7 linked regions of the Homo sapiens genome follow. The protein of the gene in region 4 interacts with the protein of the main gene of each other region in a pairwise test. Each region holds a gene or a part of one and is shown on either strand. Other genes may lie near its edges. The genes, in order: ERN1, MTMR6, CNOT7, NMI, POMZP3, SOX10 and GCSH.

Region 1 (4,209 bases), on a different chromosome or scaffold from region 4:
TTTTTTTTGGAAGAATAAATTTGCAGGAAAAGCAAAACAAAACAAAAAATAAAACACCACAGATATTACATTTTATTTTTAATTTTTTGTTCCCTTTTTTTTTCCAGGTAGATAATCCCAGCAAAAGGTAGTACTTTATTATCAAGTGGTACTTAAATATTCCTAGGAAAAACAGCCACATGTTTTAAGAACTGCAGCCTCCAAAAGGGACAATCAATGTATCAACTCTGATTTATGAAGTCTTAAGGCAAAAGTTTTAAATGGCCTCACAACCGACCATACAAAGAATCTTATCTGTAGGAGGCGGGCCACCCTCAAAACCAGAGAATTATCCCGAGGTATTTCAGGGTGCTCATGGGTGCCACATCTCCTAGAAAGTTGATCTGAAACCACTGCAAACTAAAGGACCCCACAAATGAGTCATTTAACAAATCCAAATAAAACATTTTCTCAATAGCTTTTAGGTACAAAGGGTATCATCCAGAGACTGCCTTGGTTTATTTACATCTTCAAAATATAAACAAAATGTAAACATTCTATTTTCATCCAACTTTTAAAGTCTACGCTCCTAAAAGAAAGTGGCCACTGATAAAAGAAAATAGCATACTTTAAACCGCCTATCATAAAAACAATTTAAGGTTAGTTTTGTTTTTAAAACACTCAACATTGCTTAGGGCTGGGGGAGAGGGCTGTAAAATACTACATACAATCAGCAAATTTCAATTCTAGGAATCTATCTCCAGGAAATAACTAAGCACTTAAAACTCATTCAAGAGTTTAGCAACAAGAAAGTTCATTACATTGTTATAATTTTTATAATGAAAATAAAAACATATCTGTGTAGTGAAAAAATAAAAAAAAATAAAAACAGCCTCAATATCTAAATGATTGAGTGGTCAAATTATGGTACATCCATTCCATTCAGAGAAATACTACGCAGCCAATTAAGAATAATGTTGCAGAATTAAGCTGATTGACATAGATCTATATGTTCCAGTGTGGGGAAGAAAAGTATTACCTGTAAATATGTGCACAGAAAAAGCATCTGAAAGAACATATGTCAAGATATTAGATTAGTTATTAGAGAAATGCAAATCAAAGCTATAATGAGTTACCACTCCACATCCACCAGGATGGCTAAGATTAAAAAGATAGGTAATAACGAGTATCAGTGAGGGTATAAGAGACACTGTAACCCTCCTTCCTACATTGCAGGTGGGAATGTAAAATAGTGCAGCTGCCTTGGAAAACAGTCAGACAGTTCCTTGAAAGGTTAAACAAAGAGTTACCATATGACCCAACAATCTCTTTCCTAGATATATGCCCAAGAAGAGTGAAAATAAATGTCCACGCAAAAATTTGTACACAAATGTTCATGGCAGAATTATTAATAGTCCCAAAGCAGAAACAATCCAAATGTCCCTCAATGGATGGATGATATGGTTTGGCTCTGTGTCCCCACCCAAATCTCATCTTGTAGCTCCCACTATTCCCATGTGCTGTTGGAGGGACCCCGTGGGAGACAACTGAATCATGGGGATGGGTCTTTCCCGTGCTGTTCTTGTGATAGTGAATAAGTCTCACGAGATTTGATGGTATTAAAAATGGGAAGCTCCCTGCACAAGCTCTCTCTTTCCCTGCTGCCATCAACGTAAGATGTGACTTGCTCCTCCTTACCTTTTTTCATGATTGTGAGGCCTCCCCAGCCACGTGGAACTGTAAGTCCATTAAACCTACTTCTTTTGTAAATTGCCCAGTCTCGGGTATGTCTTTATCAGCAGCATGAAAATGGACTAATACAATGGATAAATAAAATGTGGTATATTCATATAATGGAATATTATTCAGCAATAAAAAGGAACAAAGTACTGACACATGTTATTATACAACATGGATGAACCTTGAGAACATGATGCTAAGTTAAAGAGGCCAGTTACAAAAGACCACATAATGTATGATTCCATTTATATAAGAGGTCCAGAATAGGCAAATTTATAGACAGAAAGTAGATTTGTGGTTGCCAAGGACTAGGAGGTTTGGGGGGAAACGGTGTGTAACAGCTAATAGGTATGAAGTTTATTTCTGGGATGATGAAAATGTTCTAAAATGGACTGTGGTGATGACTGCAGAATTCTGTCAATATACTAAAACCCACCGAATTGTACACTTTAAATGGGTGAATTGTGATGATAGGTGAATTATATCTCAATAAAATTGTTTAAAATCTTCATAGAGGTAATGTTTGGAAAATAAGATAATAGAAGGCTTGTTTTTTATTTTTTAATTTAGGCTTATCTATCCTTTCTAACTTTTCTACAATGAATATGATTACTTTGAGATAATGCCTCAAAAAAAAATATCTTCCCCTGTTATCATACAGAAAGCACCAAACATAAAATAATTGAAAAAATGAAAATACCCCTTTCTTTATGATCCCTATGGCCACAGCAAGATGACTGGCAGGCAAAGCTCGGCTTATTACCACATCAACCCTGATCAGTTATAACCCCAGTCCCCAACCCACGGCTGGGCACAGAAGCTCAATGTTTTTTGTTTTTTGTTTTTCTTTTTGAGACAGAGTCTCGCTCTGTTGCCAAGGCTGCAGTGCAGTGGTGTGATCTCAGCTCACTGCAACCTCTACCTCCCAGGTTCAAGCGATTCTCCTGCCTCGGCCTCCCGAGTAGCTGGGATTACAGGTGCATGCCACCTTGCCCAGCTAATTTTTGTATTTTTAGTACAGACGGAGTTTTGCCATGTTGGCCAGGCTGCTCTCGAACGCCTGACCTCAAGTGATTCACCCGCCTTGGCCTCCTAAAGTGCTGGGATTACAGGCGCAAACCACCAAGCCCGGCTGAGAAGCTCAATGTTTTTTTACATGGATGATGGTTTACTAAGGTGCTACTAAAGTGACAAATGTGATGGTGTACTCAGAACATTTTCTACCGGGTTACAGAAGATGTTCTGTGGGGAAAAAGTGAACAAAAATAGATAACATCGTATTTTTATACCGTTGTATTTGCTGTATGTTTGTACATGAGCAAAGATTATAAGATATTGATAGAAAGACTGTCTAAAACCAGCTGTGTTGCTCTAAGGCAGGGAAGTTTGAAACCAAACATGGGATATAGGTAAAGATAGAAAGGAAAAAAAAAACTGCTTCTGGGAAATATTTCCAACCAGTAGTTTATTATTCACAAACTGTGATTCACCAGTCCTATTTTTTAAGCCAGCATCACGCTCTAATCATATTCCTAGGTTACAAGCCCAGTTATTTGTGCATAATAAAAACTGAATCCATTAAGATGATACATTAGGCTTTTCTTCCCTATGTCATCTCTTTAGGGAGACATTTGATTATAAAACCTACAAAATATTGAACCTACATATTACTTTGGATCCCGAAACCAAAGAGGTTTCCTATGAAAATGAAACAGTTATCCAAGGATTCTTTCACCTGAAAAACGGAGTCCAAATCTGGGGCAGGCAAATAATGAAACCCTCAGACCTATGCAAGTGACACTATTCCATCCAGACATGAAGAAACTTTAATGCGGCTCACTAGATTTATGTTCGGAAATATGGGCTATTGTTGAACTCTCTCTCGAATAACTCTCAGATACATTTTTCTCCTGTGCTCTGAGAAGCTACATTACTGCAGAAGGCTGAATAGGCAGGCAAGTTAATGAAACAATACACATGTGCACAACTACAGTTTAATTTCATGATCAGCAGCCCTGATAACAAACTCAATGAACATTCTACTTATGGCCTCAGTATAAACACTTGATATCGCCTATTAGGATAATTAATGCAGGTGATCACTGTCAGAATAAATGATAAGCAAAGACATTGCTAGTTAAGACTCATCTATCAGATTACAGTGTTTCTATACACACATGATCCTCAGTTCTCGGTGACTTTTTAAAAACCTCCCTCTAAAACCAAAATATTGGCTAAATGAAAGAAATCTGATATCTTATAGCTTTTAAAAAAAAAGGTACTTTGCCTCACATTGTACTGATCTCTTTGGTAATTGAGAGATGTGGCACCTAAATAACCATAAAATGAGGACTGCTGACAGTGATGATGTAACCCTAACCAACTCTAGGAGCAAGATATAGGTCTAGGAAGAAAGGAAAAACTCACTGACTAAATAAGCACATTCTGGATTAACAAAAGACAGCCTCAAGTGCTTAATAATACCAATGT
Region 2 (4,209 bases), on a different chromosome or scaffold from region 4:
TAATGTAGGTATCCAGGGGGAAAGTGGAAAATCTCCTGATTTTTCCATAACTCCTAAGATGACCCATAGGTGTGTCTTGGAGAAAAACTACTAGGAAATATCTACTTTTACTTCCATCTTTCCATTTTTGAGAATGTTTGGCACTAATTAAGAATAGTTTTTCCTAAAATAGCTCTGTACTCCAGGAAAAGAGTTACCTCTGTGCTCCAAATTATAATAAACTATTTTGAATCACTGTAACATAGAGCTAAAGCCTCAATGTTCTTTGATTGTTCATCTCCACCATTCTCTATTCACTTTTTATTCCCTTTACGCATTTTTAGAATTTTCCACATGCTCTCAGTTCTGCTGTTTACTCTGTTGGGAGTGTGAGCATGTGGCTATCTTCAAATACTACCAGATTTAGCTTCCTTAATATGTCCCTTGGATGTTCAAAAGTCTGTTAAGTGCTCTTTATTGCCTACTGTAAGAGGCAATAAAGAAATCCAAACTCAGAAGCCCAACCTAAAACAATATACATAGGACCTCTAAGACCTACTCCAGAGATCTTCCTTACAGCAAAATTTAGGCAAAAACCCCTATCCCCGAAGACTGGTCAGGAAATAACATGAACTAGGGTCAAGTAGTGTCTCAGGGCTTTTCTGAGACCCTACTCAAGGACGGACACGCTGCAGCCAACATAGCTAGATTTATTTTCCCCAAAGAACTGTCTGTTTAGAAATGTGGGGAGAGCTATAAGGCTCCATCCTATCTTAAAACAAACCAACAGTTTAAAATATTTTACACTTTAAAACTAGCGACTGATACATTCTGGGAAATTAAACAGCATAAGGATTTCTCTGTTCTAAAATATATAAATGCAGACCGAAAAGAAGCATGAGGAGACTTTCCAGGGTGTTGACAACATTTCATATTCTGGGTGCTGGTTACATAGGTGTGTGAGTTTGGTAAGATTTACTGAGCTTCACACTTAACGCTCTATGTACTTTTCTGTATGTATGCTACACTTCAAAACACATTTTATAATGTGCTTTTACTATTAGCTGAAAGGTGGGGGAATATTAGAAGGGTACTCAGCTTTAGAAATACAAAAAATAAAATCTTTACAATAAACTTTCAAATTGTCAAGATATTTTATTAAGTTTCAAACATGATTTTTGTTAGACCTCGGCTAAGTAGGGGGAAAAGGAGACTCTTTTAATTGAATCATCTTACTTGAGCTCTTCTCTTTCCTTCTGACAATTTCCAAGGAAGTTTCCAAACTGGCATGAATGAATATGCTCATGGATCTGAAGAAGAAATGCTTCACTGAATTCAAAGGCTTGTGGAAACTGTTCGGTCAAATGCCACACACATTCCAAGAACTGAGTAAACACTGGTGAGACTTCCTTTGGGTCACCATCCAACTGGCCACACCTAACCCCACAGAAAGTATAAGCTTTTAAAAACACCTCTGAAAGGTCCATTGTTCAGGTATTGTTAATCTTAAACATACAAAAATATTCCTAAAGCACTGTTACATTAGCATGCAAAACTAGAATTTTTATTGAAACCATTTATGAGTTTTTAAACCACAGCTTTAAAGGATCTGTTACCATCTCTAAATAAAATGCAGCCCAAAAGGAAGGTAATAAATAGTCATGAAAATTAACAAGCGTACTAGAATTGAAAGAAATTACAGAAAAAAATTAAATGTCTTTACGTAAAATACAGTAAAAACCATGACACTCTTACCTCCCATCACGCATGTGAGTTCATAAGGAACAGAAACATTTTGGCATTCTAAACTTGGTTTACTAATTTTATAAAATATATGACTGTGTAACTGTGACTCACCTCTCTGAAAATTTATGTCCAAAAGAGATCCAATCCTTTTCTATTAAAACCTTAATGAGAAAAAGTAAAATTCACTTTCTGACTACTTTCAATTATTTTGTTTAGGCTGGATTAAATCTTATTAGTTTAAAAACAGTATTTACTGTACACTTTTAACTTATAAACAAAACAGCACAAAAAACCACAGGCAAAAGAATGCCAAAACCTTGATTCGAGGTGGGGTTAAAGAAGAATAAAAATGCATAAAAAGAAATAGAGTAGTTTCGTGACTTAAATTATTTCCGTTGAATTTATTACATTTTAAGTGAAAAGTACATGTTATAAAGCAGTATTACATTTAAGTTTTTGTATGTATGAAGATGATATATCATAGGAAAAAGGCTAGAAAAATGTAAACCAAAACTGCTAACAAAGGATAACTCTAGGTGGTAGACTGAGGTGGATATTTTAAAACTTTTGGCTTACTTGTACATTTTTTATATTATTTATATACTACTTTTTTTAAGAAAAAAAAACTAATGATAAAAAGACCAATTATTTTAATCAAATCATCTTACTTGAGTTCATGTTCAGATCCAAGTGTTAACATCTATCCTCTTGAATGGACTGACTTTATGTTTTCCTTGCCACAGCTTCTCTACTTACCCACTCCACTGTAAAAACAGATTTCTAACTTTTTCAGTCTAATCTAAACACATATTTGTAGTATTTAGTACACTTTATCACTTAACTATACAGTCACCAAGCACATTATTTTCATAGTGTCAAAACTGCTGGTTTTAGCTTCTCTGATTTTGTCTCAAGCCTCTGCTTTCCGCAGAAGGCTATACACTGATGTGGCTGAGGATGTAGTCGCTGGAGCTCAGGCACAGGCTCCAATCCCAGCTTCACCACTTTGTGTGACCTTGTGGCTGGAGCCACAGATTTTATTCTGGTCTCTCTGCCATTCTTCTACAAAACCATGTTTAAAGCATAACTCAATATCTTTCTCACTAAATGTATTCTTTGGCTTATCTCAGTGAAGAGCCAGAGAGCAGCACCATCCATCCTGGCACCTAATTCAGAAACTTGGAAATCATCCCAGAGGAAGACTCCTCTCTTCTATCCCACATCCAATCCATGATCAATTCTTCCTGACTCTACTTTCTTTTTTTTTTGAGACAGGGTCTCACTCTGTTGCCCAGGCTGGAGTGCAGTGGCGCAATCTTGGCTCACTGCAACCTCCGCCTCCTGGGTTCAAGTAATTCTTCTGCCTCAGCCTCCTGAGTAGCTGGGATTATAGGTACACATCACCATGCCCGGCTAATTTTTGTATTTTTAGCAGAGACAGGGTTTCACCATATTGGCCAGGCTGGTCTCGAATTCCTGACCTCATGATCCACCCGCCTTGGCCTCCCAAAGTGCTGGGATTACAGGCGTGAGCCACTGCGCCCAGCCACTGACTCTACTCTCTAAACATCCCTGGAACCCATCACCTCCCCCTTCACTTGTGTGTTACTATTTTAGTTTGGTAAAATTAAAAACTTTTGTCTCATAAGTTATCATAATAGTGTCTACACTCGCCTCCTAGCCTCCATTCCCACTCCCTTTGGCCTTCAAGATACCAAGCCACCTTTTTAAAAAGCACATCTAATCAAGTTACTGTTTGCTTGTTTAAAACTCTTTAATAGCTCCCATTATCCAAAGAGGGGAAAGCCCCATTCCAGCCTTCTCTTTCTCAGGCCCTGACCCCACTCTATTCCTCTGCCTCCAAGCCCCCTATTCTAATACTCACTCTGAACTCCATCCATCACACATTACCTGCAGTCACCCAAAGAGGTTATGCTTTGATTTACACTGTTCCTATTGCCTGGGAAGCTCTCACATCATCCCCATTTATTACATGATTTCATTTGGATGTCTAACAAATAATTAAAGCCAAACATGGCAAAGAAAATATTCCTTATCGTACACTCTCAAGGTAAGCTGAGCATTATTTTCTTATTAGCAGCACTCCCGCTTGGCCTGTCCCAGAGTCGGTATGTTAGCAGCAAAAAATAGCGGTGCTGAAAAGGGACTGGTGATTTTAAATCTTCCTTTGCTTTAAGATGGCACTGTATTTAATAATTCAAGACTAATGAAAATTTTCTAACATCTCTTCATTTAATTTACCATGAGTTAAGATGTAAATTTTGAAAACATAAGTTAATCTGCTCACACGTTTAAAAGCAAGCAAATAAAAATCTGATCATACCTTTAAAAGCAAAGAAACAAAAAAAAGGAACTAGGTCTTTATCTTCACAAAGGAGAAAATCTATTCAACTAGAAATTTTATCTTCAGATATAAAACATGCCTAATATGTTATTACACTTACTAATGCAGGTGTTTTAAAT
Region 3 (4,209 bases), on a different chromosome or scaffold from region 4:
CTTCACGGTGCTCTCTCTATATTAGGCATTACTCGTTTATCTTCCAAATGACTTCTTCTACCTAATGTTTTTCACTGTATCCTTCTCCTTAAACATCTCCTAACATCAGTGTAAATCAAGCTTGTCCAACCTGCAGCCAGTGGGCCACATGTGGCCCGGCATGGCTGTGAATGTAGCCCAATACAAATTTGTCAACTTTCTTAAAACATTTTGAGATTTTTTTTTTTTTTAGCTCAACAGCTATTGTTAGCATTAGTGTATTTTATGTGTGGCCCAAGACAATTCTTCCTCTAGTGTGGCCCAGGGAAACCAAAAGATTAGACACCCCTAGTGTAAATGGTAGCAAAACTTGGTAGTAAACTTTAGCAGTCATTTTTGAGTAAGAAAGAAAAAATGTCACTTACAGGCTGTACTAAGAAAGCAGTTGTTACTCGAACAAAGGTGTTTCTAGAAAAGGAAACTGTCAATTTTATCCAAACTGAGAAGCTGATGGGTTACCTCCTTCTCACGTACTGAGATCACAATAGTATCTAATTTAAAAACAATGTTCTAATTCACTTGAACAAAAAGTTAACATGGAACAAATGAAATGGTAAAGCACTAATTTTAATAAAGGTTTATCATTTGAGAAAAAGGATAGGAGGCAATTTTCAGTGTTTCACAGATGTAGTTCTTATAAAAGGTTTTCAGTTTGAGTGGAGTACTTTGCACCCTTTATAAATGAGGTGTTCAATCTTTTGGCTTCCTTGGGCCATACTCAAAGAACTGTCTTGGGCCACACATTAAATAAACTAACTTAAACAACAACAAAAAAATCTCATAATGTTTTAAGAAAGTTTACGAATTTCTGTTGGGCTGCATTCAAAGCCATCCTGGGCCAAGGGTTGGACAAGTTTACTTTACAAGGTTCTGTAGACTGTGCGTGTGTGTATAGATACAGGTATTTTTAGAGACAAAGTATCACTCTGTTGCCCAGGCTGGAGTGCAGTGGTGCAATCTAGATCACTATAGCCTTGAACACCTCAGTTAAAGCAATCCACTTGGTTCAGCCTCCCTGTACCTGTAGTGCTAGCTACCTGTACCTGTACCTGTAGTGCTAGGACTACAGGTACACAGCCACCATGCCTGGCTTAGTTTCATTTTTTTTTTTTTTTTTTGTAGAGACAGAGTCTATGTTGACCAGGCTGGTCTAGAACTCCTGGCCTCAAGCAATCCTCCTGCCTTGGTCTCCAAATGGAGAGTATATTATTAAACCCAAAAGAGTGAAATGGAGAGTCAGGCTAAACACAGTGTAATTACAAGCCACACTACTATACCACAGGCATCATTACTCTGCTTTTCCTAAGCCCTACTTTCGTAAAATTGTGTATACTAAATATCTTTGTTTATCTGACAAAGAACAGGAAGAAAGAATTCATACATTGGCACTACCATTAATTGCCTACAGTTTCTTTCACTATTTTACCTACCAGATATTAGGATGTATGACACAAATGTAGGATGTCAAACAGAAGAACAATGCAATATTGCAACATACAGTTAAGTACTCACTCAACGTTATCAATAAGTTCTTGGAAATTGCAACTTTAAGCCAAAAGATGGATAACGAAACCAATTTTTACCACAGGCTAATTGATAAAAACAAGAGTTAAGTTCCTACGGCATATTTCTGGTCACAAAAAAATCATCAAACTTCTAGATAAAGACCAAAATACTTCTAATATTAAACAATGAAATAAATGTGAGCTATATGTAAATTTAAGAACAATTAATAAAAACAAGATAATTATTTGCTCCATTATTCAGTTGAGGGGTGAAGAAAGCCAGAGCCTATTCTGGCAGCTCAGGGCACAATGTGGGAACCAACCCTGGTCAGCATGTCGTTCCGTGGCACAGTGCACTCACACAGATACACCTACTCACTCACACTGGGACAACTTAGCCACACCATTTCACCTAACGTGCACAGCCTTGGGATGTGGGAGGAAATCAGAGGACCCGGGAGAAAATCCACATATACACGAGAACGTGCACACTCCACTCAGGTAGTGGCCCGGGTCAGGAATCAATTTTATTTTTTATGAAGGTTACCATGAAACAATGTTGAAGAAAATGTCATTTGAGGTCCTGCTGTAATAAGAATGTATTATTTTATTTACCCAACTTAGTTTGCAAATAATCTGCCCCTCTCTAAAAACATCTAAAACTTCCCTTAGCTATCAAGACTACTTCTATTAATAATACAGAAATATTATAACTAAGGAAACTGGGTGAAGACCCAGGGCTTGAGTTAGAATGAAGATTCTGACATATGATAAACACCAGGTTCAAGGATACTACTACTTCTCCTATATGTAAATTAAGAGAGCTTTTGTGGGCTGAAGTGGCAACCTAATGATAATACTGACTTGAAAGGAAAACGTACCCAAGGTTCCAGAAAACGTCTTACTGCATTTGACATGTAATCTACTCATAAACTGGAATATGAATGCAACAAAAATCTTCACAAGAAGGATAAATATTATAAAAGGCTATATTTCAAATTGCACACAAAATTTTTGAAAGTAAAACTAATGTAGGATTATTTTTTCTATCAGAAGTACTTTCAATACCCAGTCTTCCAAATACAAAAAAAGCTGCAGTCATATTTTAAATATAACATCTTTAACATCAAAGTATTTTTTTTGGTCCCATAGTAAAAAAGAAAACCACGCTTTTGAAATGTTACGTTTTATATATTTCCAGGATAACTACACCAAATTCACCTAGCATGTCACCATACTTGAGGAAAATCAATTCCTAAGATTAAAGAAAAAAAAAAAAAAGTCTGGGTTATACAGTTATTTCCCACTTACGTCAAATTAAATTTAAAATTAAACTGCCAAGTTGAAGTTCCTGGAGGGTATTCTCCTTGCTCATTCATAAATGTCAGTCCTAGCTGAATTATCTTTAACAAGTCTACATTACACCGCAATAGTTGGTATTGATAGTCAGCATTGCTCCTGAATTCTCCAATGGGTCTTGCAACCACACCTGGAAACTCGGTGTCCTGTAAAATAGTTTTAAGATTCATTATGTACTAAACAGTCAAAACTACAATCCACACATTTTTAATTTTTGATGCAAATCAAAGAATCCTACAGATGATATTCTACACATTTATATTCAATTACAAAGTATATTTTAACTAGAAAGAACATCACTTTTTAGAACCATAAAACTCTATAAACTTAATAACCTTTCCTTAAATATATCCAAAAAGTTACTATACGAGATACATGTGATAAATTTAACCAAATACTTACTCTATAACCAAGAAAGGGGGGAAAATCATAAATTCCTGTCTCCCAAAGGATACATGAAATGATGCTCACAGTATTCCAATGCTAAAACCAAGTTTCTTGAAGAACTGGTTCAAAAGAGGGGAAAACGCCCTGTACTTTCCAATTGCTTCTCTGACACAAGGTTTTTCTCAACACCAAAACCCTAAGAAAAACATCATTAGCTTCCTAATTTCTCTGGCTTAAACAATATTCTCTCTATAGTCCACAGAAAGCATGCTGTCAAGAATTGCATGCCACCTACTCACTCTTGTAGGATGTTATCACTTCTCTATGTTGCCACTCTTTATCATCTGAGAAATCAATGATCACTATGAATTTCCATTGGTTAAGAAAACAATTTTAGTTCTAATCATGGGTAAGTACACCTTTATCAAATAGTATGTCATCTACAAAGAAACAGTCATATTTTAACCAATCAACTTGCTCCTCCCCAAAGTAATGCATTTGTTTATTTTTATTAAAAATACTGAGACAAAGATACATCGGTTTAGTATTAGAATTCAAACTAGGGCTAGCTAAGAATAAAAACTACCTATCAAGTCACTATGAAATAGTAAAGAAATCAATATTTCTCTAAATTCAGTGCAATTCAACAGCCACTTTATTGAATACTATATGTGTTATGCTAGGTGTTGGGAGAGAAAGGATTAAAACACTTGGTTTATGGAGCTAATAATAATCCAGTGGATGTAGAAAACAGTAGGGTAGCTAACAGATATAGACAGTATAATGGTAAAGAAGAAAAATCATTAACTGGATAGACAATCTAGGCAGACCAAACAGCACGTGCAAAAGCAGAGTTGCTTAGTAACACAGTATATTCACAGAACTCCAGTGTTAATTATGAAAACAAATTGCAGACCAA
Region 4 (4,209 bases):
GAATTTCAGTAACATTGATTTTCATTTTAGAAACTTCTACATAAACCTGGAAAATGATTTGATGTTCAGAAATATGGATGAGAGAAGTGCTTGTGATGAACAGAAATCCAAAAAATTTTAATCATCCTGTTACCTGGAATCTGACTCCTGAATTTAATGGAACTGGCTTGGCCGTAACCTCCAGATTTACATCTTTTATCTGTACATGATGTTTACTCATGCTTACCACATTTTGAGCAACTGAAAAATAATTCAGGAAGGAAGTATTAATTTCCAATATTTTAAGAATTGTTATGCTTTTGGTTTAAGAACAAATTATCCTGAATATTTTTAATTTTCTTTAATATTAAAGGGTCTAATTTTAAAAATTTGGCGGGCGGTGATTCCAAGTGATAATGGTCTTGCTACCAAAGTAGAATATATAATTTGGGGGGTCAGGGGGAAGGAGGACCAGATCTCATTCTGTCACTGAAGCTGGAATGCAGTGATGTGATCATAGCTCACTGTAACCTCAAACTCCTGGGCTCAAGAGATCCTCCCACCTCAGCTTCCAGAATAGCTATGATTACAGGTGCATGCCACCACGCCTAGCTAATTTTTTTAACTTTTTGTAGAGACGAGCTCTCACTTTGTTACCCAGGCTGCTCTGGAACTCCTGGACTCAAGCAATCCTCCTGCATCGGACTCCCAGACAAAGTTCTGGTATTATCAGGATGAGCCACTGCTCTTGGTCCCAAAGTAGAATATATTAATGTCAAAGTATATCAGCAAAATCACAATGTAGAAGTTCTCAAGTTCTAGATTCTTCTCATAAGATGAATCTTTTCTCTTATCTCTTAAGAGATAAGCCTAACAATCTTCCAGAATTCATATATTACTTCAGCTCAGCCACATACCCTTCCTTCCACTATTAACAATTACCAGAGGATTCCCCTAGTACATTAATGCACAGCCAGAAAGTGTCCCATGTTCAGTAAGCTGGGAAAACTTTCATGGCTAAGTGTCATTTGTACAATTAGTCTTGATTTTACTTAACCTTATCATTTGTTACTCCTTAATATGTTACAAGCACTAGAGCAATATATATTCATTTGCTCTGTCTTCTCAAGGATTACATGTTAAAGACTACATAGGCTGGAACATCAAAGAGTGAGTCTTTTTTTTGGTCATACTTAATGACGAATTCCACTTTTGCAAAAATGCTCTTGAAATCATTCTTTAAAAAGTTGATAGTCCTGCTATATTGATCACAAAGCTGTCAAGTCTAATTTACCTGTGCAAATGGGAGAGGTTTAGTAAAATGCTAAAAATCACTAGCACTCCAAAAGGCAACTCTATGTCAATTAAAAATGTGAGTGGGCATTTATTTTTAATTGTGTGGCATGAGTTTATAATACTGCAGTTGTTGATATTTGGGGCTGCTATTCCAATGTATCATGAAAATAAGTGACATTCACTCTCTGTCTTATAAAACTTCACATGTGTTTATGACAACCAGACCAGATGGCACCACACCACAGCTGGAGGAAGAGAAAAAAGGGCCAGAAGGCAGGGCCTTGGCCATGTGGGAATTCAACTCACTGTACCAAAATATGACTCTATAACTTGGATGATGGTTTTTTGTTTTTTTGTGTTTTTGTGTTTTTTTGCTAATGACAACAGACAATAACAGAAAATATCAATGAGTAATACTCAGATGATCCTCTTTCCCTCCCACTCTTCCACAAACCCCCAACATCTGGTGATCTGATACAGCTGAGAGGGACCGCTTGTGTCTCAATTGTTGTGACTCTGACAATCAAGAGCCAACTCCTACTTAATTGTGTTTCAAACCTACTGCTGTCCCAGGAGATTGGGAGCTCAGAGCCACGTCAAGCGTAGAAGCAATGATGTAGGTGCTTTTAGAGAATTCCATTTCCAACATTCCCAGGAAATTGCTGTGCAGAAATCCTGCCTCCCAAATCCTCATTTATATCTATCTTTTAGTTATATCCCGATTACCAGTCGCCAGTATGAGTCCTGGACTCCTCTTCTACCTGTAGCAGTAGCTCCAGGGTGAAGGAAAACACACTGGCGATGCATGTCTTCTACGCACAGATACTGTCCTGCTGGAATGCCTTTCAACATTTATTTTCAGGCTACAGTGGTGCACCAGTTTTGAGGAAACATGGGTTATAGACTGTCAGAATATGAGCACTGGAAGGGCTGGGAACACCATCTGGTCCCTCACCACATAACTTAAATAAAAGAACAAAGGCCTGGGCTGGTGGCCTACCGAGAGAAATATTGGCCCAGTGGAAGTACATGGACTCTCAGGGTTTGGCTCTAAGCTCTGCAACTAACCGTATAGACTTTAAGCAAGTTAATTATCTTCTTTAAGCTTCTGTATCCTTATCTGAAAAATTTCTAACATGTAGCAAAAACTAACATCCATTAAGTTTGTATTAAGTGTCCAACATTGTGCTAAGTATTTTATCAACATTTCTCATTTAATACTCAAAGCAGCCTCATGAAGTAGGTACTACCATGAAGCACCTGTATAAAACCCTGAGGTTTATAAAGAACCTATCCCAAATCATGCTTCTAGGAAGGGACAAGGCTGGCACTCAAAGCCAGATCCTCCCCACTCAGGAACCCCCAGCTCTGAACAGGGGCCCTCACCATGGCAGACTTAGCAAACATTAGGTTTCATTCCAAATCTCTAGCTCCCAGGCTCTTCTCATTCGTTGGCTATGTTCCCTTAGGTAAATCACTTAAACATCCTCAGAATCTGTTTTCTTGGCTCTGGCATGTCTATATTTAAAGTACACAATAATAACTATCCTATCCTCCTATATTTATGGAATTGTGTGAGTATAAAATGTGATAATGTCTCTGAGAACTGTACAGCTCTACTACCTTGAAATATTACTATCATTATTTGGAGGTAGCATGTGGAGTAGAAAGAGGCTGGTATTGGACATCATCATAGCACCTGGATTAAGTCCCACAGTCATGGCTTTCTGAATACAAGATCATATTCAAGGCACTTGTCTCAGAGTCAGTTTTCTCATCTGTAAAATGGGAATAATCATACCTGCCTCAGAACGTCACTATGAGGATAAGAAATAATATAAGTGAAGTAATATTAGCGAAGTAATAGCTAAATGTCTATGAAAGTGCTTTCCAAATAACATGGTCATATTTTTTAACATTAGTCATACCTTCTTCTTTTTCAAAGGTGATAAGTGCTTGTCCTTTTTGTATCTCATAAGGAACTTTCGAGCTCACTTGAAACGAACAGGAGATATTTGACAACTGGCTGTCATTCTCAGGAGTTTCAACTGATAAGAATTTCATCTTTGTTTCAGGAATATCCTCTTTAATCTAATCCAAATGAAAATGTTTGATTAAAATCAAGACGAGAAATAACTTAAGTCCTTCCAATGATAATGTAATTTGGTCATCCAATAATTCATTCCCCACTAATTTTAGAACCTTGTAGAATATTGAGTATGGTCTTATTTAACATTTTTAGTAATTGCTTTTTCCCATGTAAGTACTCAGTAATCAAATGCTGATCTTTTAATATCATTTCACAGATGAAATTAAAAATATATAATCCTCTCACTTTTTTCTAATCAATGTTTAAACTGTCAATATTGTATGGTGTTCAGTTCTAAAGCCTACATCATTCATGTGAATAAGGACTTTTTAAACAAGTGCCAATAATAGACTATCTCAAAAGGAAATCATTAGATAGTATGTTTAATTTTGCTGCAAAGTATGAAATATAGTGTTGGGTATAATATGGTATTTCAAATCCAGATAATTTCATCCAAAAAGAAAGACTCTAGAATTAGATAATTTTATTTATTTATTTATTTATTTTGAGACAGAGTCTCACTCTGTTGCCAGGCTGGAGTACAGTGGTGTGATCTCGGCTCACTGCAACCTCCACCTCCCGGGTTCAAACAATTCTCCTGCCTCAGTCTCCCGCGTAGCTGGAACTACAGGCATGCGCTACCACACCGAGCTAATTTCTGTATTTTGTATTTTTAGCAAAGACAGGGTTTCACCACGTTGGCCAGGATGGTCTCTTGACCTCATGATCTGCCTGCCTTGGTCTCCCAAAGCGCTGGGATTACAGGCGTGAGCCACCACACCTGGCCCAGAATTAGATGATGTTAAATTTATCAAATTTAAAAATTCCACCTTCCCCAACACCTG
Region 5 (4,209 bases), on a different chromosome or scaffold from region 4:
AGTGCACGGGGCGGGTGGTATACAGTCGTCCCCACCCGACACAGTCAGTACTAATTCTGACCTTCCATCTGACCACCACACCACGACCAGATATTGCTTTCTTCTTTTATTCGGAAGCAGACACAGGGTGGGAGGCAGTGCGACACCTCCTGGTGAGAACCAGGATAACAGCAGTCAGAGTCAGGGACACCACCACAGCCAGGCCTACGCCCAGCAGCACCACTGAGGTGTCAGAAGGCAAAGCCCACTGCTCTACTTCATGGTCACCCCTCCTGTCCAGGAAGATCAGTGGCCCCACGGTGACATCTGCTTCTTCTGTCACTGTGAAAGGAGAACACACAACCAAGGGTCATCTTAGTCCCTAACCGGGAACTGGGTTGGAGGTTTTATTCTGCCTCAGTGGGCTAAACTAATATGTTGTCTTTTTTGTGTGGGCTAATAAACAGTTTCTAGACAAAAAAACACAGCTTTCTCGGCCAGGTGTGATGGCTTATGCCTGTAATCCCAGCACTTTTTGGGAGGCTGAGGCAGGCAGATCACCTGAGGTCAGGTGTTTGAGACCAGCCTGGCCAACACGGCAAGACCCGTCTCTACTGAAAATAAAAAAGTTAACTGGGCATGGTGGCACATGCCTGTAGTCTCAGCTACTTGGGAGGCTGAGGCAGGAGAATAGCTTGAACCTGGGAGGCAGAGGTTTCAGTGAGCAGAGATCGTGCCATTGCTCTCCAGCCTGGAGGACAGAGCTAGACACCATCTTGGTGCAGGGGAGGGGGAAGAAAAAAGAAAAAGACAGCTTTCTCATACGGAGAAAGCAGGTCACCCAAGAGGGATTCCCTAGTACATCATCTTTTTTGTAGAGACAGGGTCTTGCTATGTTGCCCAGGCTGGTCGAGAACTCATGGGGCTCAAGCGATTTCCCTGGCCTCAGCCTCCCCAAGTGCTAGGATTATAGGCACAACCCACTGTTCTGGCCAGATTATTATTATTTTTTTTTTTTGAGAGACAGTTTTACTCTTGTTGCCCAGGCTGGAGTACAATGGTGCAATCTCGGCTCACTGCAACCTCTGCCTCCCAGATTCAAGTGATTCTCCTGCCTCAGCCTCCCAAGTAGCTGGGATTACAGGCATGTACCACCACGCCCAGCTAATTTTTTATTTTTAGTAGAGATGGGGTTTCTCCATGTTGGTCAGGCTGGTCTCGAACTCCTGACCTCAGGTGACCTGCCCGCCTTGGCCTCCCAAAGTGTTGGGATTACAGGCCTGAGCCACTATGCCAAGCCAGATTATCTTAACAACTGCTATATTTCCCCTACATGCCTAATTATGTCTCAGTAGAAGCCTAGGATGACAGCAGATCTACCCTGGCTGCCACCGAGGTGGAAGGCTGAGAGCCCCCTCCTGCTTAACCCCAAGATTTGTGTTAGGGAAAGGTAGCTGCAGGCCTAGGTACAAACAGTTTTAATGGATGACAAGGGAAAATACCATCACCCTGAAATGACAGCAGGTACCCTCAACTGAGTAAGGGACAATGAACAGCCTCTTGGCCATTCTATGACATACCATGCCTGCGGTTACAGGGAAGCAGACGTGGACCACTGGCTCACGACACGAGGCTGCCTCCTGGAATGGCTTGGAGTGCCACAGTCACCTTTGTTACAGCATTGACAGATGTCAGCCAGGCCTTCCACTGGGAACCAGCTGAGATGAAAGAGAAGCAGCTTAGATTTTTGTTGCCTGCAGGAAGCAGTTTGCTGATAATATATTGGGGGAAATAGACAAGGGGTCGCCGATTCAGTTTCTACTCCAGTCACGGAGCACCTGTCCTCACCTGTTGGAAGGCTTGCTGAAGGAACAGGCCTTGTTGAGTTCATCTGGGTCCTGCTCAGCTAGGGTGACCTTCAGGTGGCAGGTGATGTATATCTGCAAGGAATAACAGCTATTTCCAGGCCGAGTTCCAGGCTGTGCCTGGGAGTTTAACACACCAGTTCTCTTATAACCCTCAACCCTTTAAAGAGTGAGAAGGGGCCGGGTGCGATGGCACACACCTATAATCCCAGCACTTTGGGAGGCCAAGGCGGGTATATCACCTGAGGTCAGGAGTTCGAGACCAACCTGGCCAACATGGTGAAACCCCATCGCTACTAAAAATACAAAGTTAGCTGGGCGTGGTGGTGGGTACCTGTAGTCCCAGCTACCTGGAAGGCTGAGGCAGGAGAATCACTGGAACCTGGGAGGCAGAAGTTGCAGTGAGCCGAGATCATGCCACTGCACCCCAGCCTGGCTGACAGAGTGAGACTGTCTCATAAAATAAACAGGGGGAAGGAAGAGCCTCATCTCTAAGATGGTGTAAAGGTTCACTTACCCAATGTTAGAGCAAGTAGCAACTAGTTTTAGACTGGAATCCACCACTTATTCCCCTGATCTTTTCCAAACTTACCCAATCATTGAACATGCTTGACCCTGGGCTTCTGAGACAGGGCCTGTCACCCAGGCTGGAGTACAGTGGTATGATGATGCCTCACTATAGCCTTGACCTCCTGGGCTCAAGGGATCCTCCCACCTCAGCCTCATGAGCAGCTGGAATTACGGGTACAAGCCACTACACCTGGCTAATTTTGGATTTTTTGCAGAGATGAGGTTTTGCCATGTTGCCCAAGCTGGCCTCAAACTCCTGGGCTCAAGTGATCTGTCCGCCTCAGCCTCCCAAAGTACTGGGATTACAGGTGCCAGCTATCCGTGCCTGGCCAGTCCTGGGCTTAACTCAGCATTGCTAAACCCGCGCCCATCCCCAGGTGACCGAGGTGAGTGGTAGACACCTTAATAGCTAGCAGCTTAGCTGGGTTTCTGACGCTGCCACCTGCCACTTGACTAGTTGACAAGCTACTTTTCTTCAGGGATGTAGTCACTGTATTGCCAGCTAAGGCAAGACCAAGTTGTTTCTGGGACCTGAGGTCCTTGGGCACATAAAGAAGCCTTTTGGACTTGCTTCTGTGGAGTTTCCATTTCAGACTTAAGAGGTTTTTTTTTTGTTTTTTTTTTTTGAGGTGGAGTCTTGCTGTTGCCTAGGCTGGAGTGCAATGGCACGATCTCAGCTCACTGCAACCTCTGCCTCCTAGGTTCAAGCAATTCTCCTGCCTCAGCCTCCCAAGTAGCTGGGATTACAGGCACTTGCCATAATGCCTCGCTAATTTTTTTGTATTTTTAGTAGAGACAGGGTTTCACCATCTTGGCCAGGCTGGTCTTGAACTCCTGACCTTGTGATCCACCTGCCTTGGCCTCCCAAAGTGCTGGGATTACAGGCGTGAGCCACTGCGCCCGGCCAGACTTGAGTTTGATGGCTCACTCTTTGGGCAAGCTTCCCTGGGCTTTTCTTCCTTGCACATACCTCTGCTATTAGTCAAGCCTACGTCAGTCTCCCTTCACCTGTAAGGGATATGACGACCAGAAGACTCACCAGGCTGATACCCTGACAGTCCTGGCCTCTGGGAAACGTTTACCCACCCTCGTTAGACAAGTACGAGGGAATGAACCCAATATGAGCTCCTGCTGGGAGCTGAAGGACCCCCCCCACCCAGGGAATAGTCAACTACCCTGTAAGCACTGCCCCCCTACCCTTTTTTTTTTTTTTTTTTCTGAGACGGAGTCTGTCTCTAGTCCAGGCTGGAGTACACTGTAGCCACTACCTCCGAGGTTTAAGCGATTCTCTTGCCTCAGCCTCCCAAGTAGATGGGATTATGGGTACCCACCACCACACCAGGCTAGTTTTTGTATTTGTAGTAGAGATGGGGTTTCCCCATGTTGGCCAGGCTTGTCTTGAACTCCTGGCCTCAAGTGATCCACCTGCCTTGGCCTCACAAAGTGCTGGGATTATTGGCATGAGCCACCGTACCTGGCCAAGCCTTCTCATTTTAGACTGACATTCCATCCTGCTGCTGGGGCTAGGGGCCATTCTGACAGAGCCAGGGCTCAGTCTAGCCTTGGCCCGTCCCCAGGTCAGTTTCCCTTCATATTTCAGGCAGGGCTAAAATTCCTCCCTGCTCAACCTCGGGCAGAGCATGGCAATTCTGCCACCTTGCAGCAGAAGCCTCAGAGCCACAAGCCTCAGTCACCACCTAGTGGCCGAGTACACCAGCAGAGAAACTTGAAACCATGTAAATTCAGACTTTTAGAAACAAGCCAGTTTAGCAGTTGTCCAGCTGCCCATCTTAGC
Region 6 (4,209 bases), on a different chromosome or scaffold from region 4:
TAGAAGTTGGTAGCAGAGCCAGGGCCAGAACCCAGGACTCCCATACTCTCTGTCCAGAGGACTTCCCCTGACCCTGGTGACAGTGGTGGATCACCTACACTTTGAGGAGTGGTCAGGAGGTTGGGGGGAAGCAAGAAGATGAGAACAAGAGTGAGGAGCATCTGGGTTCCAGAAAATTAGGGCTTTGTCAGAGGAGCCCGGCTCTCTTCCGCTGCCCTCCCCCTTGCCAGCCACAGTTGGGTAGAGATTGGGTCTAGAGGCTTAGAGTGGTAGAAGGTGCAGGAGGATCTCCAAGAGACCAAAAGATTCACATCCCGCCCCCTGGCCTGTTCTTGCCATGTGTTTGCTGAAGACCTGGTGCCCCTTCCCCTGCCCCTTCTCAGCCCTCAGTGCCCTGCTCACCCAGGGCAGGCCCAGGGCTCAGCGACCAGCCCGCTGTGTGGACCCAGACAGCCCAGTTCTGCCCAAGAGCAGAGGTCACAGCTAGCTCCTCCACCCAAGGTCCATCCAGATCTGGGTGGGGCTTGGCCCAGGCCAGTATCTTTAGTGCCAGGGGACAAAGAGCAAGTGAGAAACAGACAACCAGGAGAGACATACAGATAGGGCAGACTCTGGGGACCATGAGAAGACCACAGTACGAGCCCAACGAGAGTCAAAGCAAGGACGGACCTCATTTTCCCTCCATCTCCCATTGCCAAGGGTTTAAGATTGGCTCCTCCATTGTCCCTGTCCCCAGGTTCCCCCAGCCCAGAACCCTGGGCTTGGACTCCCTTCAGGAGGACTTATTCTTGGCCATCACTCAAGCTGTGTGCACAGGGGCCAGCCTGAGGTGTGGCAGTCAGGAAAACTGGCACTACTTGCTGAGGACCCAATCCCAATGGGAGGATGGGGCCAGAACCATGGCAAGGATCAAAGGCAATGCCAACAGAGGGTGGCTCCCTGGACCCTGGAGGGGGGTCCTGAGAGACATTTGGATTTGGGCTGGGCTGGCCAATTGCTCCAGGGGCTTCTCCTGAAACCTCCCCAAGCTGTGACTCCTGGGATGTCAAGAAGTGGGGTGGTTAGGTAGGCAGAGCTGGAAAACAGGTGTCTTAAAACCAAAAAGAGAAAGATACACACAGACTGTGTGGAGTGCCCCAAGGGAGTGTGGGATCAGACACACTGGAGCCCAGGTCCTAAGGGGCCGTGTCAGCCCCAACAGTCATTCTAACCTTTGATGCCCATCTGGGGAGGGGCTAGTTGAGGCTGATCACAGGGTGGTGCCTGTGGGTTGGCTGATCTGCCTGGAAAGAACCAGAGCCAAGAAACTGGAAAGGCGGACACAGGCAAGAGTCCCTCCTGTGTGGTGGGGGTCACCCAGCCTCTGTTCCCAGTGCCACAGGCCCCTTCCCCAAGTAGTCTTCTTATGCCCCTGGCCTAGCAGGACACAGGTAGCAGCAATCAGTGCCCCACTGTGGGAGGTCCCCGGTTGGGGTTTCCAGTTTGGGTGAGGAATCAGCCTACCTCTTCTTGCCCCCATTCCAAACCTGGGAGACCAGGGAGAAAGAGGGCTGACAGGAAGGTGCAGATGAGGACTGGGTTTGGAGTTAGAGCTGGAGGCGAAGTTGGGGGTTTGGGGCTGGTAATGTTGAGTGGGGACTGGTGCTGGAGATTGGGTTTACATGGTGGGCAGGCTGGGCTTGGGGTTGGGGTGGAGGTGGAATCAGCTGTCCGGCACAGCTGGTGGAGGAGGGAGCTGGGGTCGGGGATGGCAGTGGCCCCAGGCTTAGATTTCTGTCAGGGTTAGGCTAATGCTGGGAACTAGCTTAGGAGGTAGCAGCGGAATCCGATGTTGGAATCCTCTCTCTCTTCTGGCCCCTGTCACTTTCTTGCTGATGCTGGCTGCCAGCTGGGCAGGGGGCAAGGGAAGGATAGGTGAAAGAGTGAGCTCTGTGTCCCATGTCCCCAGCCATCCCAGAAGCCCCTCTGTTGGGGTCCACTGCTGGCGGAGCAGCTCTCTCCTCTGTGGGTTCTCCCCAGTCACACCCTCAAGGCCTGCTCCACCCCCTCCCCTGGTCCCAGCCGTCAGAGAGGGTGCCCACATCCCACTCCCTGACTCTCAAGGCCCTGCTCCGGCATCTTTGTCCTAAGTGTGTACACTGACTCTGACAGAGTCTCGGCTGGAGGGACCCTCTGAGAAAGCTGGGGCTAGGGCTGGGCTCAGGGCCGGGGTGGGGGGAGTAGACAGGGAGGCTAAGCCGCAGAGGAATGCTGCTGCCGGCTAGGAGGTGCCTGGCATGACCACCCCCGCCCAGCCTGGGGAGGGAGGGCTCGGCCTTCTGCTGACTGGGGGAAGAGGGCACTCACTGGGGTGTGAGGGGTGGGGCAGCTGAAGAGACAAGCCCTCTGGACTGACAGACAAGGCTGCTCCCACAAAGACTCATGGATTCTCAGTACCAAGGTCTGGGATTCTAGAATCTGGACTTTCCCCTCGACCCCCTCTGTAAGGTACCCCATCCTGCCCTCCTCACCCTGGGGCAGCCAAACCCTAAATGCCCTCCACCCTCCAACCCTGGCCTAAGGCTGGAGTCGGTGGCAAGGGCGCTGGCTTCAGGGCTTCTTCTCTCCATGTGTTGGTTTCAGGGACTGTTCCAGGGTCTGAGGAGAGGCTAGCTTCCTCTACTCTCTGCTATTTTCTGGACAAGGATATAGGATCCCCCACAGGAGGCAGTACCCCCCACCCAGACCCATGGTAAAGAGGAGCCACATCTGCCCCCTCAGTCCCACCACACTGGAATTCACACAATCAGGACCCAGAGTTAAGAGTCCAACCCTAGATCCTCCTGTCCAACCACCCCCGCAAGCAGCATTAGAAAAGCACCTCTTGGGGCCGGGCACGGTGGCTCATGCCTATAATCTCAGCACTTTGGGAGGCCAAGGCGGGTGGATCACCTGAGGTCAGGAGTTGGAGACCAGCCTGGCCAATATGGTGAAACCTCGTCTCTACTAAAAATACAAAAATTAGCCAGGCATGGTGGTGCGTGCCTGTAGTCCCAGCTACCCGGGAGGCTGAGGCAGGAGAATCGCTTGAACTCAGGAAGCCGAGATTGCAGTGAGCTGAGACCGCATCACGGCACTCCAGCCTGGGCGACAGAGTGAGACTCTGTCTCTAAATAAATAAAAAATTAAAAATAGAAAAGTACCTCTTGGGCTGGGCACAATGGCTCATGCCTGTAATCCCAGCACTTTGGAAGGCCAAGGCAGGCGGATCAACTAAGGTCAGGAGTTGGAGACCAGCCTGGTCAACATGGTGAAACCCCATCTCTACTAAAAATACAAAAATTAACCGGGCGTGGTGGCGCATGCTTGTAATCCCAGCTACTTGGGAGGCTGAGGCACAAGAATCACTTGAACCTGGGAGGCAGAGGTTGCAGTGAGCTGAGATCATACCACTGAGCTCTAGCATGGGTGACAGAGTGAGATTCCCTCACAGAAAAAAAAAAGAAAGAAAGAAAAGCACCTCTTCCTCAAGGTGCTCAGCCCGCTTCCCAGGCCCTGGTGCAAGGCATCTCACATCCATTATTCTGGCCAATCCCACACCCAAGTTAAGCCAATGTTATCATCCTTTTATAGGTGAAGAAACTCAGGCTCAGAGAAGTAATTTGCTCAAGGTCACACACACAGCTAGTAAGTAGCAGAGACTGAGTTCTCCCCCAGCCATGCTGCTTCTATTGCCCACCCTCAGTCCCAGGGAGCTCACCCCCACTGAAGTAGCCAATTCCACTTGCAGACAGCTTTGATGATGAGAAAGTTTTTCCTTTCCTTGAACTGGCATCTGCCCCTTGAAACCTCTACTCCTACTTCTAACTCCTCCTCAGGGGCTGCCAGGAGCAGCGGGCTGACCCCTCTCTCACCCTCCAGCCCATGAAAGATTTGGGGGCAGCCCTCTGAGGCTGTTATTCCTTGGGCCTCACATCTCTCAGTCCACAAATCATAGGGCACAGCCCCCACCCCGGGTCCTGTCCTCTGGGTGCCCCATCCCAGGGCCTCACATCTTCCAAGATGGACACTCAGAGGGAGGCCAACCTGGAGTGCTCTGGCATTCACGCCAGCCCCTCTGCTGTCCTCTCCGCCTCCCACCACACCCCAGGCTGCTGAACGAAAGTGACAAGCGCCCCTTCATCGAGGAGGCTGAGCGGCTCCGTATGCAGCACAAGAAAGACCACCCGG
Region 7 (3,184 bases), on a different chromosome or scaffold from region 4:
ATCCAAATACACAAGACCAGGTATGTCTTTAACAAATGGAACACTAACTACTGAGGTTAACGGGATTAGAAAGCAGTAGTAATTAGAAGGGCTAGGTGACAGACAAAAGAGAACTACAACCTAATCCTAGCTTTGCCATTTATCAGCCATGAGACCCTGACAGATAAATCCTTTGGAGCCTCTATTCATCTACAAAATAGAGAAAATTGCTGTTAGCTTACCTGATTAGATTATAAGGGTGAAAATGTGAGAAAACCAAAAATTAATGCAAAATATATATTTTTTTACCTCCCATGTCACACAATATGAGTGGCTGCTTTATGTCTGAAAAAGTAAATACTTTGCAGATGTTTACACCAAAACCAAAGAATCTACAACTGATATCAAGAAACTGCAAAATAAGGTAATGCTTTTATCATCAGAGATTTTTTTTTCTTTTTTTGAGAAGGTCTCGCTCTGTCACTCAGGCTGGAGTGGAGTGGTGCGATCTTGGCTCACTATAGACTGCAGCCTTGACCTCCCAGGTTCAAGCAATTCTCCCACCTCAGCCTCCCTAGTAACTGAGACTACAGGCACATTCCACCACAGCCAGCTAATTTTTGTATTTCTATAGAGACAGAGTTTCACCATGTTGCCCAGGCTGGTCTCCAACTCCTGGACTAAAGCAATCCACCCACCTTGGCCTCCCAAAGTGCTGGGATCACAGGCGCGAGCCACTGCGCCTAGCCAGAAATCTTAAACATAACTTTAAGTATTCAACTAACCTCTGTTTTTCTTTTAAAGCAGAACATCTCTATTTAGTACCAAGAAGTAGAAAAAGATGAAGTCACAATCAGCTAAACTTGCTTTAAATTCTAGATAAAATATTTACTGTAGTAGTAATTCCTTGAGAAATTTCTAGCAACAGCTTACCATCTTCATAACAAGATTTGTTTACAAGTCCTGGATTTTCTGCAAGAGCTTCATTAATTTCAGTTACTTCTCCTGATAAAGGAGAATAGAGTTCACTAGCAGCTTTCACACTTTCCAAAGCACCAAACTCATCTAAGTGGAAAAAAAATTAAAGAAAACATGAAATGTTAAAAGTCAGTTACTTGAAAACATAAAATACGAAAAAGTAGATTCCTGTCATACAGCTATGATTTTAAAATTCCAAATTTCTTTTTTTTTTTTTTTTGAGATGGAGTCTCGCTCTGTTGCCCAGGCTGGAGTGCAGTGGCGCAATCTCACGTCACTGCAAGCTCCACCTCCCAAGGGTTCATGCCATTCTCCTGCCTCAGCCTCCCGAGTAGCTGGGACTACAGGCGCCCACCTGCCACCACGCCCGTCTAATTTTTTGTATTTGTAGTAGAGACGGGGTTTCACTGTGTTAGCTAGGATGGTCTCAATCTCCTGATGCCGTGATCCGCCCGCCTCGGCCTCCCAAAGTGCTGGGATTATAGGCATAAGCCACTGCACCTGGCTCTTTTTTTTTTTTTTTTTTGAGACGGAGTCTCGCTCTGTCACCAGGCTACAGTACAATGGTGTGTTCTAGGCTCACTGCCACCTCTGCCTCCCGGGTTCAAGCCATTCTCCTGCCTCAGCCTCCCAAGTAGCTAGGATTACAGGCGCGCACCACCACGCCCAGCTAATTTTTGTATTTTTAGTAGAGACAGCGTTTCACTGTGTTGGCCAAGCTGGTCTTGAACTCCTGACCTCGTGATCAACCCGCCTCAGCCTCCCAAAGTGCTGGGATTATAACCGTGAGCCACCGTGCCTGGCCTACATTTCTTTAATTAAAAATAAAACCATAAGTTTTGTCAGGCTATAATAACCACGAGAAGGGTATATATTGTCTCAATAAAGTGGACCTATCTGTGTGTCCTGGACACAGTAAATAACAAATGGTGATGTGCCTGAATGCCAGATGTGTGTAGGTTCAGTAAAACTCCATGTTCTTGCAACTTAGCTGTGGCTCAGAAAAAAACAAAATGAAAACTTTAGAATGTTCCAGTGACAGTGAAGTACCCTGTATCAGATAACAATTATAAGCTCTGGGCCAGGCGTGGTGGCTCATGCCTGTAATTCCAGCACTTTGGAAGACCAAGGCAGGAAGATCACCTGAGGTCAGTAGTTTGAAACCAGCCTAGCCAACATGGTCTCTACTAAAATACAAAAAAATTAGCCGGGCGTGGTGGTGGGCGCCTATAATCCCAGCTACTTGGGAGACTGAGGCAGGAGAATCACTTGAACCCGGGAGGTGGAGGTTGCAGTGAGCCGAGACCATGCCATTGCAGTCCAGCCTTGGTGACAGTGTGAGACTCCGTCTCAAAAACAAAAAAAACGGCCGGGCGCGGTGGCTCACGCCTGTAATCCCAGCACTTTGGGAGGCCGAGGCGGGTGGATCATGAGGTCAGGAGATCGAGACCATCCTGGCTAACAAGGTGAAACCCCGTCTCTACTAAAAATACAAAAAATTAGCCGGGCGCGGTGGCGGGCGCCTGTAGTCCCAGCTACTCGGGAGGCTGAGGCAGGAGAATGGCGTGAACCCGGGAAGCGGAGCTTGCAGTGAGCCGAGATTGCGCCACTGCAGTCCGCAGTCCGGCCTGGGCGACAGAGCGAGACTCCGTCTCAAAAAAAAAAAAAAAAAAAAAAAAAAAAAAAAAAAAAAAAAAAAAAAAAAAAAAACAAAAAAAACACAATTATGAACTCTGAACTACTGGCCAGGAACGGCGGCTCATGCTTGTAATCCCAACACTTTGGGAAGCCAAGGCGGGTAGATCACTTGAGGTCACGAGTTCAAGACCAGCCTGGCCAACATGGTGAAACCCCGCCTCTACCAAAACCTCGAAATAAATAAATTAATTAATTTAAAAAATTAGCCTGGTGTGGTTGTGCATGCCTGTACTCCCAGCTACTTGGGTGGCTGAAAAAGGAGAATTGCTTGAACCTAGGAGGCGGAGGTTGCAGTGAGCCAATGTCGCACCATCGCATTCCAGCCTGGGCAACAGAGCAAGACTCCGTCTCAAAAAAATAAGAAGAAAAAAAAAAGAACAGTTTAAAAAAGGCTGAAAAGTTAACAGTCTTAGGGACCCTATAGGACAATATCAAGTGATATGACGAACATGTCTCAAATCAGAGAAGGAAAAAGGAATGAAGTGGGAAGAGAAAGAAATCATGACTAAAATAAGAAGTCTCCAAATTT

What was found.
Region 1: the proteins of NMI (region 4) and ERN1 interact in a protein complementation assay, tested with the Homo sapiens proteins (one study listed by BioGRID).
Region 2: the proteins of NMI (region 4) and MTMR6 interact in binary tests that used the Homo sapiens proteins (3 or more experiments, as listed by UniProt).
Region 3: the proteins of NMI (region 4) and CNOT7 interact in a two-hybrid assay, tested with the Homo sapiens proteins (one large-scale study listed by BioGRID).
Region 5: the proteins of NMI (region 4) and POMZP3 interact in a two-hybrid assay, tested with the Homo sapiens proteins (2 studies listed by BioGRID and IntAct).
Region 6: the proteins of NMI (region 4) and SOX10 interact in a two-hybrid assay, tested with the Homo sapiens proteins (one study listed by BioGRID).
Region 7: the proteins of NMI (region 4) and GCSH interact in binary tests that used the Homo sapiens proteins (3 or more experiments, as listed by UniProt).

The regions. Positions count from the first base shown.
Region 1 is NC_000017.11:64,122,936-64,127,144, forward strand, and holds part of ERN1 (serine/threonine-protein kinase/endoribonuclease IRE1 precursor), read right to left. Parts: intron 1-4,209. UniProt on the Homo sapiens protein: Serine/threonine-protein kinase and endoribonuclease that acts as a key sensor for the endoplasmic reticulum unfolded protein response (UPR).
Region 2 is NC_000013.11:25,252,549-25,256,757, forward strand, and holds part of MTMR6 (phosphatidylinositol-3,5-bisphosphate 3-phosphatase MTMR6), read right to left. Parts: intron 2,525-4,209; coding exon of another isoform or gene 2,474-2,524; exon of another isoform or gene 1,901-2,473; intron 1,887-1,900; coding exon 1,837-1,886; intron 1,417-1,836; coding exon 1,216-1,416; intron 1-1,215. UniProt on the Homo sapiens protein: Lipid phosphatase that specifically dephosphorylates the D-3 position of phosphatidylinositol 3-phosphate and phosphatidylinositol 3,5-bisphosphate, generating phosphatidylinositol and phosphatidylinositol 5-phosphate.
Region 3 is NC_000008.11:17,240,137-17,244,345, forward strand, and holds part of CNOT7 (CCR4-NOT transcription complex subunit 7), read right to left. Parts: intron 3,487-4,209; exon of another isoform or gene 3,306-3,486; intron 3,050-3,305; coding exon 2,856-3,049; intron 1-2,855. UniProt on the Homo sapiens protein: Has 3'-5' poly(A) exoribonuclease activity for synthetic poly(A) RNA substrate. Its function seems to be partially redundant with that of CNOT8.
Region 4 is NC_000002.12:151,275,625-151,279,833, forward strand, and holds part of NMI (N-myc-interactor), read right to left. Parts: intron 3,367-4,209; coding exon 3,204-3,366; intron 241-3,203; coding exon 134-240; intron 47-133; coding exon 1-46. UniProt on the Homo sapiens protein: Acts as a signaling pathway regulator involved in innate immune system response.
Region 5 is NC_000007.14:76,609,895-76,614,103, forward strand, and holds the end of POMZP3 (POM121 and ZP3 fusion protein), read right to left. Parts: intron 1,920-4,209; coding exon 1,828-1,919; intron 1,698-1,827; coding exon 1,571-1,697; 3' UTR 1,560-1,570; intron 322-1,559; coding exon of another isoform or gene 319-321; 3' UTR 92-318; downstream 1-91.
Region 6 is NC_000022.11:37,978,056-37,982,264, reverse strand, and holds part of SOX10 (transcription factor SOX-10), read left to right. Parts: intron 1-4,129; coding exon 4,130-4,209. UniProt on the Homo sapiens protein: Transcription factor that plays a central role in developing and mature glia.
Region 7 is NC_000016.10:81,083,551-81,086,734, forward strand, and holds part of GCSH (glycine cleavage system H protein, mitochondrial precursor), read right to left. Parts: intron 1,045-3,184; coding exon 913-1,044; intron 1-912. UniProt on the Homo sapiens protein: The glycine cleavage system catalyzes the degradation of glycine. The H protein (GCSH) shuttles the methylamine group of glycine from the P protein (GLDC) to the T protein (GCST).